Regions from separate parts of the Homo sapiens genome. Here region 2 is linked to region 1. The links come from fine-mapping of genetic effects on gene expression. A gene starts in region 1. The other region holds a variant in brackets. All regions are shown on one strand. Distances are between the middles of the regions.

Region 1 (8,714 bases):
TGCTTGCTTAAAACGGCAGACACAGCAGCGGGTGCCACTTTCCTAAACACGAGTATCCATGTAAAGCTTGTGTGTTTGAGAAGGAATTGGGTCTTTTCCTCAGGTTCCCGGGACAGAGCTTCCAAAGCCCTTGGAATTTCCCCAGGGACAGGAGCGTGTGTATTCATGATGAGCTCCCAGCCATGTCTGAGCTGACGCTGATGAAGGAACACAGGATGGAGGCTGATCACTAGGACTGACCATGCGATTGTAGGGTGAAGTGTTTGGGCCTTGTGCTGTCAGCCTGACCTCCCTGGAGAGTTCAACCCCATGGACAGTGTGTCATCAGTCCTGCTTGAGCCATAAAACCCTGGTGAAAACTCTGGACACCAAAGCTCAGTAGAGCTTCCCTGTTGGTGATCATGTCCCTGTGCCGGGTGGTGATGGGCCCTGATCCCACAGGCCAGGCACAGAGGCTCTGCATTTGGGACCCTCCCTGACCTCACCTGATGTATTTCATTTGGAGGTTCAGATTGGTATCAATTATAATACAGCTGTATTTGTAACCACAGCACTTTCATCTGTTGTGTGGGTGGTTCCAGCAGGAGATGGAGCTGGAGGGGGTCTCAGAAACCTATGAATCTGTAACCAGTCAGAAGTGTGGATGGCCTGGGGACCACTGGACACACAGGTAGTATTAAAGTGAGGGCAGCCTTACTGAGGTCCATCCACATCTGTAACCTGCGGGGTCTGCTCTAGCTCCAGGTACTTAACAGCAGGACTGTACTGAAGTCTGCCTAGGACTCTGTCTCCTCCTCTGCTGAATATAATGTTTGCAGCTCCCACCCAGCATTCTGCCATTATGGAAATACAGAAGAAGCATTCTCACAAGCATCCCTGTTCTACACAAACTCAAGAGTGACACGTGGTAGGCAGCCTCTAAGATGGTCCCCAGTGGTTCTGTCTCATGTTCCTTACGCTCCCAGTTGATGCTCTGCTGTGGCATGTGCTGGACGCAAGAGCATCTGTGGATGGAATCCAGCAGGAGAGATGGCGTCCAGTGTGAGCTGGAACAACAGGAGGGTGTGGAGAGGATCCAGGAGGAGTGATGGCATCTGCATCTGGACCCACTGGTGTGTGTGCACAGGATCCTGCGGGGTGATGGCTGAACCCACTGGCGTGTGTGCACAGGATCCTGCGGGGTGATGGCTGAACTCACTGGAGTGTGTGCACAGGATCCTGCAGGGGTGATGGCACCCGGAGTCTAATCTGAACCCACTGGAGTGTGTGCACAGGATCCCGCAGGGGCGATGGCACCCGGAGTCTGAAATGAATCCTCTGGAGTGCGTGGACAGGACCCTGCAGGGGTGATGGCATCGGAATCTGAACTAAACCCACTCGAATGTGTGCGCAGGATCCCGCAGGGGCGATGGCACCCGGAGTCTAATCTGAACCCACTGGAGAGTGTGCGCAGGATCCCGCAGGGGCGATGGCATATGGAGTTTCAGCTGGACCTACTCGAGTGTGTGGATAGAATCTTGCAGGAGAGACGACATGTAGAATGTAAACTGGACTGAGTGGAGTGTATGGAGAGAATCCTGCAGGTGAGATGGCGTGTGCAGTGGGAAGCGGACCCACTGGAATCTTTGGGTGGGACCCAAACTCAACCACTGCTATGTGTAGACAGGATCTTTGAGGAGAGATGGCATCTGCAGTGTGAACCGAACCCACTGGAGTGTATGGATAGCATCTTGCAGGAGTGATGACATCTGCAGTGTGATCTGGACTGCCTCGAGTGTGTGGGTAGGATCCTGCAAGAGTGATGGCATGTGGAGTGAGCACTGCATCCACAGGACTGTGTGGACAGCAGCCTTCAGCAGTGATGATGTCTGCTGTGTGAAGTGGAGCACTGTAGTGTGTGGGTAGGGTCCTGCAGGAGAGATGGCAACTGGAGTGTGAACTGCACCCACTTGAGTGAGAGGTTGGGATGCTGCAGGTGGATGGCATTTGGAGTGTGAACTGGACCCACTTGAGTGTATGGGTAGGGTCCTGCAGGAGAGATGGCAACTGGAGTGTGAACTGGACCCACTGTTGTGCCTGGAGAGGATCCTGCAGAAGACAAGGCATCTGCAGTGTAAACTGGGCCACTGGGGTGTGTAGCTAGAATCATGCTGGAGTAACGGCTTCTGGACTGTGAGCTGGCCCCATTAAAGTGTGTGTATAGGATCCTGCAAAAGTGATAGCCTCTGGAGTGTGAATGGGACCCACTGAGGTGTGTGGATAGGATACTGCAGGGGTGATGGTGTCTGCAGTGTGAGCTGCAGCCCTGGGGCATGTGGATAGGACTCTGCAAAGAGACAGCATCTGTGGTGTGAATGGCACCGGTGGAATGTGTAGAGAGGATCCTGCAAAAGTGATGTCCTCTAGAGTGTGAACTGGACCCACTGGAGGGTGTGGACATCGTCCTGCAGGAGAGATGGCATCTAGAGTGTGAATGGCACCTCCGGAGTGTGTGGATAGGAGCCCGCAGGAGAGAGCACATGTAGAGCGTGAACTGGACCCACTGAAATGTGTGGACAGGATTCTGCAGAAGATACGGCATCCGGAGTGTGAAATGCACCACTAGTGTGTGTGCATAGAATCCTGCATAAGTTTTGGCATCTACAGTGTGAACTGGAGTCACTGGAATGTGTGAATAGGATCTTGCAGGAGAGATGTCTGCAGTGTGAGCTGGACCCACTTCTGTGTGTGGATAGTATCCTGCAGGAGAGATGTTGTCTGCAGTGTGAGCTGGGCCCACCGGAGTGTGTGAATAGGATCCTGCAGGAGAAATGGAATCCGGAGTGTGAGCTGCATCCGCTGTAGAGGGTGGATAAAATCCTGCAGGAAAGATGGCATCTGGAATGTCAGCGGGAGCCACCGACCTCTGAGGATGCACCCCGCAGGTGTGATGCGGGGCCAGTTCCAAGGCTGGGTTAGGTTTTACCCTGGCTTCTGTGTTGTACTCTCATTCTCTTCCTCTTTCTTCTAATACCTGCTCTGGGAGGCATCAGGCCATGTCCAGTGTGCAGGCCATGGAGACCCACACGGCAAGGAACTGGAACCCCCTGCCAGCAGCCTCGGGGGTCCAGTCCTTAGATGGTGCCCTGTGGTCAGCAATGCACCTGTGACCTCCGGGCTATGTCTCGTGGTAGTTGCTTTTGTGTTTTAACATAGCAACAGGAAACTAGCCTATTACCCACCAATCCCATTCCAGGCTGCTTTCAAACGCAGCTCAGGCTAGAACACCAGCACGGGGACACAGCTGAGACTTGGGGTTTGCGACGGGAACACGCCCATGCTGTGCCTCTGAATCTGGCACCGTCACCCTGTGGCCTGGGTTCAGCAACTTGGCCTCACCTTCCTTGTCTGTGAAATTCAGACTGGGTCCTTGTGAGATGATTGGAGAGAATGTATGAACTATGTGAGAACGCCACCTTTGTGCGTATCTCACGCAGTGTCTTCCCTCCTTTCCAAAGTCTTCTGCTGTCTCTAGACACACCCGACGTGGGGGGGGGGGGTTCCCTGGGTCTCCTCCTAGGTCTGTCCCAGGAGGGCACGCACTGAAGGCCGCGAGAATCCCGGGGGCTGCATTGCGCCGCGCCAAGGACTCCACACAGGACCTTTCATTTTCCCAACTGTGCTGAGCCAGGCGGCCGGCAGAGAGCAGGTGGCTGACAGGCCCCGGGGAGCCGGACCGCCTGGGTCTAATCTTCCCGCAGACTCCCTTGCTGTGCGCTTTGGGGCTTGGGCCTCAGTTTCCTCAAAAGGAATGAGGGGCTTTTTTGGAACGTTAAATAATTTCCTACGTGGTTGCGGGTAGGGAGAAGGAGAAAGAGAGGAGCGCGCCTGCGCGCCTGGAATCGTGCCCGGATCAGAGCAAGCGCTCTAAAAGTGTTACAAACATTAAGGCGCCAACTAAAAAACCCGTAGTGAGCGCAGGCAGAAACCACGGGTAAGAGAAGTGGAGAAGCTTCGCGTAGGCCCCAGGGTCCCGAGCCCCGAGTCTCGAGCGCAGAATCAGGGGTGCCAATGCTCTCCTCCGCGCCCCCGAGCGCTCGCCTTGGCCATGCGGGCCGCCCCACCGGGATGAGGGCGCTCAGGCCGGACGCTGGGGCCCCGGGTTCTCGCCCCGCCCCGCCCTCGGGGATTCAGAGGGGCCGGGAGGAGCCTCGCGCATGTGCACAGCTGGCGCCCCCCGCCCCCCGCGCACAGCTGGGACGTGGGCCGCGGCCGGGCGGGCGCAGTCGGGAGCCGGCCGTGGTGGCTCCGTGCGTCCGAGCGTCCGTCCGCGCCGTCGGCCATGGCCAAGCGCTCCAGGGGCCCCGGGCGCCGCTGCCTGTTGGCGCTCGTGCTGTTCTGCGCCTGGGGGACGCTGGCCGTGGTGGCCCAGAAGCCGGGCGCAGGGTGTCCGAGCCGCTGCCTGTGCTTCCGCACCACCGTGCGCTGCATGCATCTGCTGCTGGAGGCCGTGCCCGCCGTGGCGCCGCAGACCTCCATCCTGTGAGTGCCGCGGGGGACGCCGGGGGCGCGGGGTCCGGGGCTTCGTGGAGATCCGGGAGCGCAGGGGTGATCGGAGGTGGGGGGCGCGGAGGGTGGAGGGGGCATCGGGCGCGCGGGGGGCCTGGGGACTTGGGACGCAGAAGGGAACCTCCGAAGGGGGACGTGGGGGGACCTGGGCGCGGGGACCCGCTGGGCCTTTGTTCGCCCTGCGGGAGACGCCGAGGGGCGGAACAGAGCGCTGTGCGCGCGGCCTTCGTAGCCGCCTTTGTTCGGAACTCGGAATCCCCGCAGGACTGGGAAGTTGTTGGAGCCTCCGGGGCTCCCCCCGCTCGCCTCCCGCCGCCCCCTCTCATGCTCCGCCGGCCTCCCGCTTCCCCCTGGTTCGCGGCCCCTCCTCCGCTCACCTTTCCCCCGCTCAGGACCCCTCGGTCCCCCTCCGCTCCCCGAGCGCGGCGCAGCCCCCTCCGTCCTCCCAGCCCCCTCCGCCCCGTTCCTCGTCCTGTTCGCTCCCCTCCTCCGCTCCTCTTCCTCCTCCCCTTCCTCCTCCTCCTCCCCTTCCTCCTCCTCCTCCCCTTCCTCCTCCTCCTCCCTTCCCCTCCTCCTCCCCCCCTTCCTTCTCCTCCCCCAGCCTCCGCCCTCTCCCCCTCCCCCGCCCCTTGGAGCGCAGTGCCCACCCCATCCCCCCGCGCCGGGGAAGCCTCCCCAGAGGAGCCTCAGTTCCCGCAGCCGCGGCGCCCCCGCTCCCAGTGCCCCCGCATCTGCCCGGAGCGTCCTCTCCTGGGGTGTCCTGGGGGCCCCGCGCTTCTCAGGGGCTTTTCCTGCGCCCGGAGCGAGCCGGGCGGCCGGGGTTCCCGAGAGGGGCCGCGCGGTAGTCTCGGGGCAGCCCGGGTCTAGATGGAGCCGGGACTCAGAGCGGGTTTCTGCCTCGGGCATTTCTCTTCTTTCGCTTCTAATCCACGCGAGCGTGTTCGCAGTTGCGCTATACGTTTAACCGGATGCGTTGCGTTGGGGTTGACACCCTGTCCTGCGGGCCGTCCCGCGTCACGGTCTCCACAGCAGGAATCCCCATCCCTCCGCCCCGCGGCTCCAGGTACCGAGATGCCGCCAGAGTTCGCTGCAGGCCTCCTGTGTTCTGAAGCGAGTCGGATTCAACATTTTCGGGATCTGTGAACGCGGGCTGCGTTTCAGGCGCCGACTCTAATTTAGTCCTGTAGCGACTTTTCTGCATGCCAAAAATAGTTTTCACGTTTCTTAGCTGAGCCAGAGGACTTTTTGGCACCAGCAAAGAGTCTGCAAAAGTTGTAAAAAAATTGAGTGAACAATTCAGGAAGTGGGCGGCCAGTGCGCCTACCTCCGAAACAAAGTGCTGGGACAGACCACGGCTCCCAGGGGTCGCCGAGTTTGCAGGCTGCTTCCTGGAGGCCCTGGGGCGGGGCGGGGGCCCGAGTTCCTCTCCTCCTCCGCAGAGAGACCAAGGCTTTCTTTCCAGAGCCCGTGAATGGTCAGCCCAGGCCGGACGACTCGGGGGCATCTCACTCAACAGCAGTGGACTTTTAGAATGGAGCCGGGTGAGGTTTCCCTGGGTCTGGATAATGTAATTCTTGCTGAGCCAGTGGAAAAATGGCACCTCAAAGATTTTTCCCATCTGGTCAGTTTCATAAAGCTTGCGGTATGTTTTGCCCCGGAATATTAATTGCTTGTTGAAAATAACATGTTAAAATAAGTGTCGTAGGACACACATGGGGTCCTCTGCTCCGCTTTGCATGGTGTGCTCGTCCACAAACGCCTCACCGAATTTGAAAAAGGAGCTGAGAGTAGACGGGTGACATCATCGTCCACTCGCACAACACTTCCTCATAGGGTACATTTGCATCCATTTCTATCTTAAACTTTCAGGGGTTTTTGCAGTCTTCAGTGATACTTCGAAATGTCGCTGTTGAGTCACGTTGATTCTGTGAGGCAGGTAGACTGGTAGCTGTTAAGTTGATCGAATCCCTTATAGAACTAAACACTTTACTGGAGAAATGAACATACCCATTTTCTGGCGGTGGAAACAGAAGCTCTGGGAGAGAAGCGCAGCTCCTGACGCTATTCCTGTGGCCAAGAGGAGGAGCGTAGCGCTGGTGGCCAGAATGGAGTCCTGGCTGGATGCATTGCAGCCGCGTGATTTTTAGCAAGTCCCGTGTCTCCTGGGAGAACGTGAGGGTGTAGCTGTGCGGACCTAGGCACAGTGGACAGGTGTCATGAGCGAGCGCTAGTGAGTGCAGCCTGGGGAGGCAGGGACTGAGGGAAGAGGGAGACCTATTCTGCGGGGATATCCTGTTGAGGGGTCTCTGGGGGCATGGTCTGGTAGGCTGTTGCTTGAGATGACACAGTTCTACATGATACATGCTACACGTGAAGCAACATTTCATGTCCACTTTCGGCTTTCTCCCAGGACTGTGCTCTCATGTATATGTGATTATTTTCTATTACAATTTTTTGGTAGAAATTGGGAATATACTATATATGAAAATTTAAAAAAAAACCTGCCCCAAAGTTAGTTGGCTCATCCAACCATCACACCGTCCCTTTGCTTTTAGAGACTCACCTCCATCCCAGTCCCCCAAAAGATTAAATCAGAGCCATTGGAAAACATCTTATTGCTCCTTCCCCTCAAATGCTCCAGGAGTGTGTTTAAGCGGGTCTGATACTGGGTTGTTTGATTTGTGGCTTGGGGGCTTTGGAAAACAGTGGAATAAGCCCATCCATGACTCAGTTTGGATCGACCTTTGAGCTCCCTCAGCTGCAAGTGTGAAGGGAGCTCTGGAATGGCAGGAGCCCGCGCCCTGTGCTGCTCGGTCGGCGGTTTGGCCTTGCTGTTGGGTCTCCTGCAGAGCGCCTCCCCTCTGGAGGCCTTACTTAGTTCAGCTGTGTAGAAATGGTTGGTTTTTGAATACAGAATCATTCTGTACCCAACACAATAGAAGTTCATCACAATGGTAGTTCAAAGCTAGTATTAAAGATAAAGTATGCCGTTGTACGCCCCTTCCTTTCCTCCTCTCAACCCCAGGCTTTTTGGGGAGGTCACATTTGAAACATTCTTCTTCACGGTCACGCCGCTAGGGTGCTGGCTGGACACACTGGAGCTAGGCCCTCCACGCCCTCCTCCTGTCCTGCCTTCCTCTCTTCCCTGGAGCCGCCACGGTTGAGGCTATGGTCATGGATTCATCAAAACTAACATCCTCACCACAGTCCAGGCCGCTGCAAAGCCATGAGTTGTCCCAAACTGCAGTTCTGTGACAGAAACCCTGACATTGGAGGGGTCTGGGCATGTGGAGCTTGGGGTGGGCTCAGGGAGGTCGCATTGCAGAGAAACCACAGGCAGGCGCATGGCAGCCAGGGCGGGGCCTCCTCTCCTGCAGAATCTCCAGACAGCTGCTCCTCATTCTCAGTTTTTCTCACCATCTGCTGGGTGTTAGGCCCACGCCGTGTGCTGGGTGTTGGGCCACCCACAGAAAACGAGACCGGAATCTTGCCCTCATGGAATCCCCAGTCCAGTGGGGCCCCCAGAGAGTCAGGGGGCTTCCTGGGAGTGGTAAGATGACCCCAGGTGTGTGCAGTCCTGGTGGGACGGGGTATGGGGAAAGGGCGCACAGTGCTTGGGACCCTGCACTCTTGGTGGTCTGGACTGAGTGGACCAGCCCACCTCCCGGCCTGTGTTCACATGAGCAGAAGGTTCCAGTGTTGCTGCTCTGTGGGTCTCCTCCCGCCTGCAGGCCCCCCAGGCCCTCTGGGGGCTCTGGGAGTCTATGGGCTCATAGTCCATAGGTGGGAGTGGGTGTTTGGGCCTTTTAACTGACTTCCTGTGTCTAGGAGACTGCGTCGCCTGAGTGAGTCACATGGGTCCCGAGGTTCATCCTTGGAGCTTCCCTGACCTCCCTTGGAGAACTGGCTGCCTTTCGGAGAGGACCTCTCCTCCTCACACGCAGATAGAGGTCACAGGGTGTTTGTTGCCTGGCACTCAGGGAGCCGGCTGGCTGGTGCTGCAGAGGGGCCCGCCTGCCGGGGACTCCCTGGCTGTCCACCCTCAGCACTTCCCATGCCCTCCTCCTCCTCTGCACCCTCCTGCTCCCGGGAAGTTCCCTCACATCTGACTGCGTCTTCTGGGAGTACCCGCGGTCCCGGGACGCCAGGCCTCTCCTCCTTTGGGC
Region 2 (8,739 bases), 79 kb before region 1:
GGTCCCCTCAACTCTCTGAGATCCCCTTCTAGGCAGAGGGTGGCGGGAATGAGGACCACATTGCCAGGGGCTCCTCCAGGCCCGGTGGGAGCTTTCTGTTTGACCCAGGCATGTTTCAATGGCATACCTTGTTTTATAACACAGGAAGAAAGTTCTCCTGAGCTCTGGGTCCCTCTGTGATCTGCAGGAGGTGGAAGGGAGGGTGGCCCCAGCCCAGGAGTAAATGCAGCACAAGGGAGGGAGACAGAGAGCATTTCCATCCAGGGCTGAACCCTGCCGTGCCCCAGCTCCTACGAAGCCCCATGCCCCCATTCTGGGCTGGCAGCCCCTCACTATCAGCCCTTCAGTCATCTGGCCAGGTCACCACCTCAGGGAAAAGAGAGGAAATGTTGCTGCGCTGTGTCCAGGCCGTGATCTCTAGTCCTGGAGGCCAGGCAGGTTGACCCATCCAGAGCCCTGCAGGATGGGGAGGGGTCTGGGGCACCAGCAGGGGTGGGGATTGCTAAAGTGAGATCCTCGCCAGGATGCGCCTCCTCCTGCATCTGCTCTGGAGAAAGCAGGACTCAGTCAGTGAGCCCCACCCCACCCCACCACCTGCTCTCATGAGGAACCTCACTTCTGAGAATTACATTCCCGACCCCCACCCCATGCTCCCCCTGCCCCCACGCCACTCCTGTGGAAAACTGGCCTTACTGAACCACTTTACAAGGAAGCCTTCAGGGACTTGACTTCTCTGACCTTTGGAGTCAGCTCCCTGCTCTGCCTCAGGCCCAGACACCCTCCAAGGGGAGCCCTCCGCTTTCCCCGACGCCGGCCCTGCACTGACCCGGTACCCGGTGCTGCGTCCTAAAAGCACCTCAGACCCTTTGCTTCTTTTCCTTTAATCTCCATCTTTTAGTGTTTGACGGGAAGCAATTGGGAGGGAAAGAGTCAGATTCAACATCTGTCTCGAACTGTGAATCCCAAAGGGCCCTGTGAATAGCAGCAGGGAGAGGTGACATCTGGTCAACCTCCTCTGCCTGAAACAACCCAGTGTTCTGGCCCAGCGCTGACCAGGGTGGAGCGCGACCCTGCTTTGTTTTTGCAGGAAGATTCCCTCCTGAAGCACTCCCACATTCGCCCGCCCCCCAGCCCTCCCCAGGACCTGGCAAGCATTCAGCAGATGCTGAATGAAAGCACTGAGCTTCAGCAGGGCCCTCTGCGCCAGCGCAGGAAGCCGAACTGTGTCCCATGCCCGAGCACCGTGCCGGTCTTCTAGTTTGTTCTCCAAAGTGGCACAAACAAAGCAGCTTAAACCCAGGCCCTGTCATTAGCTCAGTTTTCCCATGGTGGAAGCCCAGGCTGGCCTAAGGGGGTCCTCTGCAGGTGGCGTCCCCCCTGGAGCTCACAGTCCAACTCACAGCTCATGCGGGTTCCTGGCAGAACTCAGCTCCTGAGCTTGCAGCTGTCAGGCCCGACTGTCCTGCTGGACGTTGGGCAGAGTCGTCCTCCGCGGATGAGGCCCCCAGGTCCTGGCCACACAGCCGGTGGCCTCACTGCTTGGCAGCTGGGCTGGGGTCTCATAGGATGTCACCCCATCATGGGGGCAATGACTATACTGTGTTCACAGGACCATCCACACTCAAGGACAGAGGCCCACGCACGGCAGGTGCACACGGGGAGACTTTGGGGCCACCTTAGCATTCTGCCCACTGGAAGGGGACTATCCAGCCACTGCGCTAGGATCTTCAGAGAAATAAAAATTTCAAGACAGTCTCTGTCCCAAGAAACTTAGCCTGTTATAATTTTATAGGGAAAACCAATATACAAACAAAAAATTAACAGTACAAACAAATAGGATCATTCTTATATCCAATAAAGAGATGGGGAACCTGATCTTTTAAAAGCGGGTTCCCATATGTGAATTAATCTCAATTAAACAAACAAAAAACTTTGACGTTCTCATAATTAGTGTGAAGCTAAGACTGTAATTCCAATCTTTTGATTTCTCCAAATAATTTCTAATAAACATAATATTACTTGATTCTTAAGGGAAGAGTAAGTAGGTTTTCAGGAGTATGCCAACTTTTTAATGGAATTATGTTATAACATGTAAATTCTACCAATGTATCTGTTTTCTGTAACTGAACTAATTTCTGTCTCCTCCTCTACTGTATGGTGAGAGCTTGCTCGCCATAACTAGGTCGCTGTGGTGCCTCCCCCCCATCTTCATCCCAGGTGCACCTTTGGGGCAGGTGGCAGCTCCTGGGGGGCCCCTTTCCCTGCCAAAGCACCAGCCTCATGGGCAGCTCCTCCACCTTCCCGGCTCCCAGCCCTGAGGCCTCTCTGTGTCTGTCGCCATCAGGAAGGCAGGGGAGTGGCGTGTCTGAGGTCTCTTTCCCCAGCTCCATGTTGCTCTCAGGGGAAAGGGAGAAAGTCTGGCTCTCAGGCCACTCTCTGAGGACCCACAGGCATCCAAACCCCTTACTCCTCTCCCTCCTGTCCTCTCCCTTCTCTGTCTCCTCCCTGGAGATTCCTCCACCGCTACCTGATGGGGATGCATCCTTCCAAATCTATGGCTGCTGCCAGGAGTTCCTCCTATCTCTGGGATGTGTCATCCACAAAGCGAAGCCTTTGAAACGCAAATGCCTTTTTCTCTGATTTTCGCTTCTAACAGCTGTTCCTTGAAGCACCAAATGCTAGCCAAAATGGTGGTAAAATGCATAAGAAGAACAAATTATGCATCAGCCGGGATACTGCGGAGTCCTCCCCCTCTCTCTCCTCTGGATGACTCAATATGCATCAGCCGGGATACTGCGGAGTCCTCCTCCACTCTCTCCTCTCGACAACTCGCTGCACGGATCCATCCCTGAGTGCTGGTCAGTGCTCCCCAAAGGAGCCGCAGAGGGCGGCGTCCCGGCGCCACCCTCGCATGGCCTGGCCGGGGTGTCACAGGCTGGCCCCTGAGTTCTCACAGGGCCCAGGGCACAAACTTCAGGACGAGAGCAGCTCAAATGCAGAGGCCCATGCCCCTCTCCTCCCTGTGCTCAGCCTTCTCTGGGATCCGAGCTCTCCGTCCAGGCTGGCGCTGACGTCAGACATGTTCTGGCCTCTATCCTGCCAGCCTTCTCAGCACTCTGGGTTGGAGGGAACATTCCAGGAAGGCAGTATTTCCCAGAGGACAGAGCACCGCCCTGCTCTGCTGGGCACAAAATTACCTAACCCTAGAGAGACGTGGAGAAAATACCAAACTGAATCTACATTACAGATTGTTGGAAGAATTGGTTGGGGTCATGTATCTAAAATGCTTAATGCAGGCTCCTAAGCATAGGAATATGTTTAGTAAGTCTAGTCTGCTTTATTAGCTATTATTTAAATTTGTTCCATAGCAAGAATCACTCTCTGTTTAGAATCCAAACTAAAAAC[G/A]TTCCCCAACCCCCATGGAGAGGGCTTGGCACGTTCCCTAAAAAGTCACTGAGCATCCCACATCACCTCTGCCCGGCGGCCCCGCTGGGGGGGGAGGCGCGGCCTCATCCCATGGGTCGTGCCAGGGACGGCGAGGCCCAGGCCAACACTGTGCCACGTAATGGTCACTGGACACCTGAGACTACTCAGCTCTTGAAGTTTGGCTCCTGTGACAGAGAACTTTTAAAAATTGTTAGATTTCAGTAAATATAAATGTAAATTTGACCACACGGGACGAGGGCCGCCACCACTGGCAGTGCAGGGCTGAACACGCCTCCAGCCACGGATCTTCCTACAGGGACCCAGCCTCATCGCTGCTCGTGCCAGGAGCCTGACCCACCTGCAGGGCTGAACATGCGGCCAGCCACGGGTCTTCCTACAGGCACTCAGCCTCATCGCTGCTCCTCCCAGGAGCACGACCCACCTGCAGGGCTGAACATGCAGCCAGCTGAGGGTCTTCCTGCAGGCACCCAGCCTCGTCACTGCTTCTCCCAGGAGCCTGACCCAAGCCCCGCCTGCAGCCTTCGCTTCCGTCCTGGGGGAGCTGCTCAGAGGCTGCCCTCCAGCGTCAACCACACCCACTCCAGCCCACTGCCTGCTCCCTCCTCCAGGACCCCGGAGCCGAAGCCCTGAGCCAGATAGGGTGGACCTGAGTGCCCCAAGTGGAGAGAAGGCTACAACTACAGCTGCCACAGCTATATCTATGACAATGAAGGTTGCAGCCACAACCACAGCAACAACAGCCTCACAGCCACAGCTCTGACAACAGCAGCAACAGCCCTCACTACCACAACCACCACGACTATAACAGCCAGCACCACCAGCTGGGTGCCCCTGCTGGGTCTGCCTGGGGAGGCCAAGCTGCCACAGGGCTGTGCAGCAGGACAGGTGTCTCCTCATTGAGGATCTTTTCCTCCCACGTGTCGATGCCATTTGAGGAGCTTAGGGCAAAAGCTCACATTTGCAGAAGAGTTATGGTTCACATGTTAAAAAGAAAACGAGGTGCAATAAGGTCCCTTTCACAGGTGTAGGGGCCAGGCCATCAACATATCCCTTCAGGAGACACAGCCAAGCCACAGCAGTGATAACGTTAACAACCGAGGCTCCTGAGAGGCAAGCAAAAGGAGAAACAAAACTAAACATTTCCCTTCTGCTAGGATTACACTCAGTCCTCAGCAGCAAGCAGCTGCTCCTGAGAAAGAGAAACCCTCCAGGAGAGGAGGGTTTCACTGTGGACACAGCAGCCCTGGTGAGGCAGTGGCTCCTTCACAGGAGAGGAGGGTTTCACCGTGGACACAGCAGCAGCCATGAGGCGGTGGCTTCTGACTGCCAGGGACCCAGATATCCGGGTCCTGCACCTCAGCCCCTGACACTCGGAGACCACCTCAGGGTGAGTTTGCTACCACAACAGCCATCCTGTCCCTGGAGGAAGGAAGGGGACCCTCTCGAAGGACACAGGCTGTAGGCCACACTTCTGCCTCCACCCTCAGATCCATGTGGTCCCAGGGCCAGCCCTCGCCATCCTGTGGCAGCCAAGTGCCTGCTGAGCACGCAGGAGCATCCCTGGGGAAGAGGGGCTGACAGTGGACACACCCTGCGCTCTCCAGGAAACAGACCCAACCCACACAAAGATGGCAGACACCTTGCAGAAAGGTGCACGTGTGTTCCTCAATACTGGGTTTATTAGGCATCTCTATTGGGAATCCTAGCCAAGCTCTGCAGACTGAAATCACATATATCTCCACTAAATCTTAAAACACTACTAAAATGACCCACTCTCCTCTTATAAACCCACAAATATAATGCAACTAAATAACTAAATAAGGAAGGGAAGTGCAGACCATCCCATCCACAAAGCACTGGGAGCCGCCCAGCCCAAGCACACATGGCTCAGGCCTCAGCTCCCTGCAGAGGAGCTGTTGGGGAGGGAGAGGATGGGGGTGGAGAGAAAGAGTGAAGAAAGAACCCAGAAAAAGAGGAGTGAAGAGCATGCAGAACCTCCATAGAAAAGAGGCTGGGACCTAGAGTGGGGATTCAGAGTTGGTCGGAAAACAGAGGAGTAGTTGAATTGTCTAAGAGGGGTTCGACTCCCGGATGCCCTGCCACAGGCCTCCTTCTCCCCGGCAGAAGGATAAGCTAGAACAGAAGCTCTGGAGCTAGTGCTAGGAAGAGCTGGAAACAGGATGAGCCGTTGTACTGAAGATGGGAACGTCAAGTGAGATGGACAGGCCCCAAGGCCTTGGTCCCGTGTGGCTCCGGGAATCCAGCGGCTCCTCCTGCTCCTCTGCCTTCTCCACTCCCCGCCACTCCAGACAGAGCAGGGGCCTCTTCTCTAGAACCAACAGATTCAAGATAAAGGGCCTCCAGGCACCAATGTCTGGGATGTATGCGTGAACAGCCAAGGACTCCGGCCACTGAAGGCAAGCAGTAAACAACATGGCAGAAACCAAGCAAACAAACCAGCCTTACCAGGGGGCAAAAGAAGCTCAGAGGAAGCAGAAACATTTCTGGAAAGAGGAGCAATCTTTTTAAAAACCTATAATTTGTCATCAGACAGAAAAGAACAGAAAGAACATTAAAATATATTGTATTCATAACCCAAGAAACATTCAGAGAACACGAATATCTATTTTAAAAAATAAATAAAAAGTTTACTTTGAAAGTTAAAATGTAAAATTGAGGTAATGTCCCATAAATTATAAAGAGATGAGAAAAGAAGATAAAAGATTTTGTTAAAAAAAAATAAAGAATTCAGGAGAGTTAGTAATCAACTAATAGGAGTTTCTGAAGAAGTAGCGAGAGTAGAGCAAATGGAAGAAAGAAAATTCCCAAAGAAAGAAAACAAGGAAAATCCCCATGGCAGAGATCTTGAGTTTTCAGATATAAAGGCCTCGTTGAGTAGCCACGCAATCATGAAATGGTTCTATGTCGTCCGGGGCTCTACCTGAGAAGCAGGACCAGTAGGATTTATATATGGACGGGTTCATCACAAGGAACTGGCTGACACCATCTGGGACCGGCTCCACAAGTCCAAAATCTGTAGGGCAGACAGGCAGCCTAGAAACTCTTGTTCAGGAGAAGTTCCATTCCACAGGGAGAATTTCTTCTTCCTCGGGGAAACCTTAGTTATATTCTTAAGGTCTTTTGACTGCTTGAGTCCGGCCCACTGAGAGTATTGAGAATAATCTCCTTACTTAAAGTCAGCTAGGCCAAGTGTGGTGGCTCACACCTGTAATCCCAGTATTTAGGGAGGAGGACGCAGGAGGATCACTTGAGCCCAAGAGTTTAAGACCAACCTGGGCAACATGGCAAGACATCATCTCTACAAAAAATTTAAAAATTAACCAGGCATGGTGGTACATGGCTGTGGTCATAGCTATTTGGGAGGCTGAGGAGTGAGAATTGCTTGAGCCCAAGAGTTGGAGGCTGCAGTGAGTATGATCATGCCACTGAACTCCAGCCTAGGTAACAACAGCAAAACCCTGTCTCAACAACAACAACAACAACAACAAAAAGCCAACTGATGGTAGATGTTAGTCACTCTACAAAATACCTTCGCAGCAACACTTAGATAAGTATTTGATTAAACAACTGGATGCTGTGTCCTCTCCATGTTGACATATAAAACTGTCATAGCCAACCACACAGAGGTTCATCATCATGAAATTTTGAGAACCTGGAGTGGGGATACAGAGAAAGAGAGGGACAAACAGAGACAAAGTGAGAGACAAAAGAAAAGGAAGCTAAGAGATGTACTCAACAGCAATGCTGGAAACAAGAATCAAATAGAACAATGCCTTCAAAACTCTTAGGAAAATGATTGCACACTCAGTATTCTATACTCAACCAAACTATCAATTTGGAATGCAAAAGCAGCAAGCCCCATCCAATGGGTGACCAAGCCCCAGCCCTTCTTACTCCTCTTGAGTGGGTGCTCTCTTCTGAACCCATTGCTGCCTCAGGCTGTACTCCCTCATTCCTCCCCCAGGCCCCTCTGCCAGCTTCCTCGCTGGCCCCCCCCCACTGCCCTCTGCCCTCTGCAAGCATCCTCCAGGCTGCTGCCAGTGAGCTCTCTACCAAGCAAACTCTACTGTGTGGTTGCCAGGATTACATGCTTCCAATCCTTTGTCATTGCCTAGAAGCTAAATCCATTCTCCTCTGTAAGGCACTTGAGATCTTCCCTAATAAGCTCTTACCCATCCCTCCAGCTCCCTGCCTCTCTGCCCCTTGGTTGCACCCAGACCTAAATTCAAAGCTGAAGACATGCTGCTCAGGCTTCTTTGGCCCTTCCACTGCTCCTTGTCCTCTTCAAACAAATGTCTGTCTTTAAATACCCATGCGGACTCCACCTCCCTCTGTAATGCTGCAGAGCATCACATCATCGGACCATGTGCATCCCTGTAGGGCATGTGTATTCACAGGGGCCTCTGCCCGAACTGCACTGGCAGGGCCCGAGTGTAGCATCTGTCACTCACGGGTGCATGGAGAGAGGCTGCAGGAGGAGGAGTGGAGGGTGAGGCTGGTGCTGGATGGCCTGGGTATAAACTCAGCCCTGCCTTTTCTGACTGTATGGTCTGGGGCAAGTTAGCTGTTCTGCGTCTCGATTCTCTCCTCTGTAAAATGGGATGGTCATAGATTGTTTGAGCAGTGGGCCAAGTCTGAAGAGCATGCCAGCATGTGATAAGTAAAGCATTTACAGCAGCTCACCACTGCTGTTAGCATTGTCATGACCCTCCTGTTAGGACTGTGCTTGAGGACAGGAGGTAAGTGTTGCTGATGAGTGAATAGAGATAGGACGTTTGATGACCTATGGAAGTGGCTCTTCAAAACGTCTCTTCTCAGGCCTTCTTCTCCTAACAGTGTTTTGATTGTCACTGCCGAATAGCAGTGGCTCCAGAATCCATCCCTTGGGCAGGAGGCAGGTGGACTCCCTGGGCTGCAGGAATGAGCTGTGTGGGTAGCTGCCATCCCTCAGGCTTTGAGAGGGACCTTTGTTTCCTGAGGCAGGTGGACATGCACCCCAGTGGGAGGGACCTGGTCTGGGAGCTGGGAGCTGGGGGCCATCTGGGTGGTCACACGGCCACCCACAGCTGCACTTTCTGCACCACCTGCCTGTGTGGCTGTGGCCGAGGCGTCCACCTGCCACAGAGGTCACTGTTCTAGAAACGCTTCCCTCTCTCCATGGTTTGAGAGCACCCTGTTTGGCACAGAATATTTTTAGGGGAAAAACCTCCAAATTCTGGATCTTGGCTTGAGAAGGGACCACGATGCCATTGCTTCCCACTGAGATGGAAG

What was found. PIP is the estimated chance that this variant, and not a neighbour inherited with it, causes the effect.
Region 2: its variant is fine-mapped to the expression of PXDN in whole blood (TOPMed, PIP 0.94).

The regions. Positions count from the first base shown.
Region 1 is chr2:1,740,063-1,748,776 of GRCh38, reverse strand. PXDN (peroxidasin) reads left to right here and starts at 4,262. Exons shown (of 23, transcript NM_012293.3): 1 at 4,262-4,521. The coding sequence starts at 4,322.
Region 2 is chr2:1,818,759-1,827,497 of GRCh38, reverse strand. All of the region lies in intron 21 of MYT1L (myelin transcription factor 1 like), which reads left to right. LOC124905967 (a long non-coding RNA gene) reads right to left here and starts at 3,953. Exons shown (of 4, transcript XR_007086192.1): 1 at 3,869-3,953; 2 at 2,528-3,203. RefSeq lists an enhancer at 848-1,405. The variant G/A (reference allele first, on the strand shown) is at 3,406.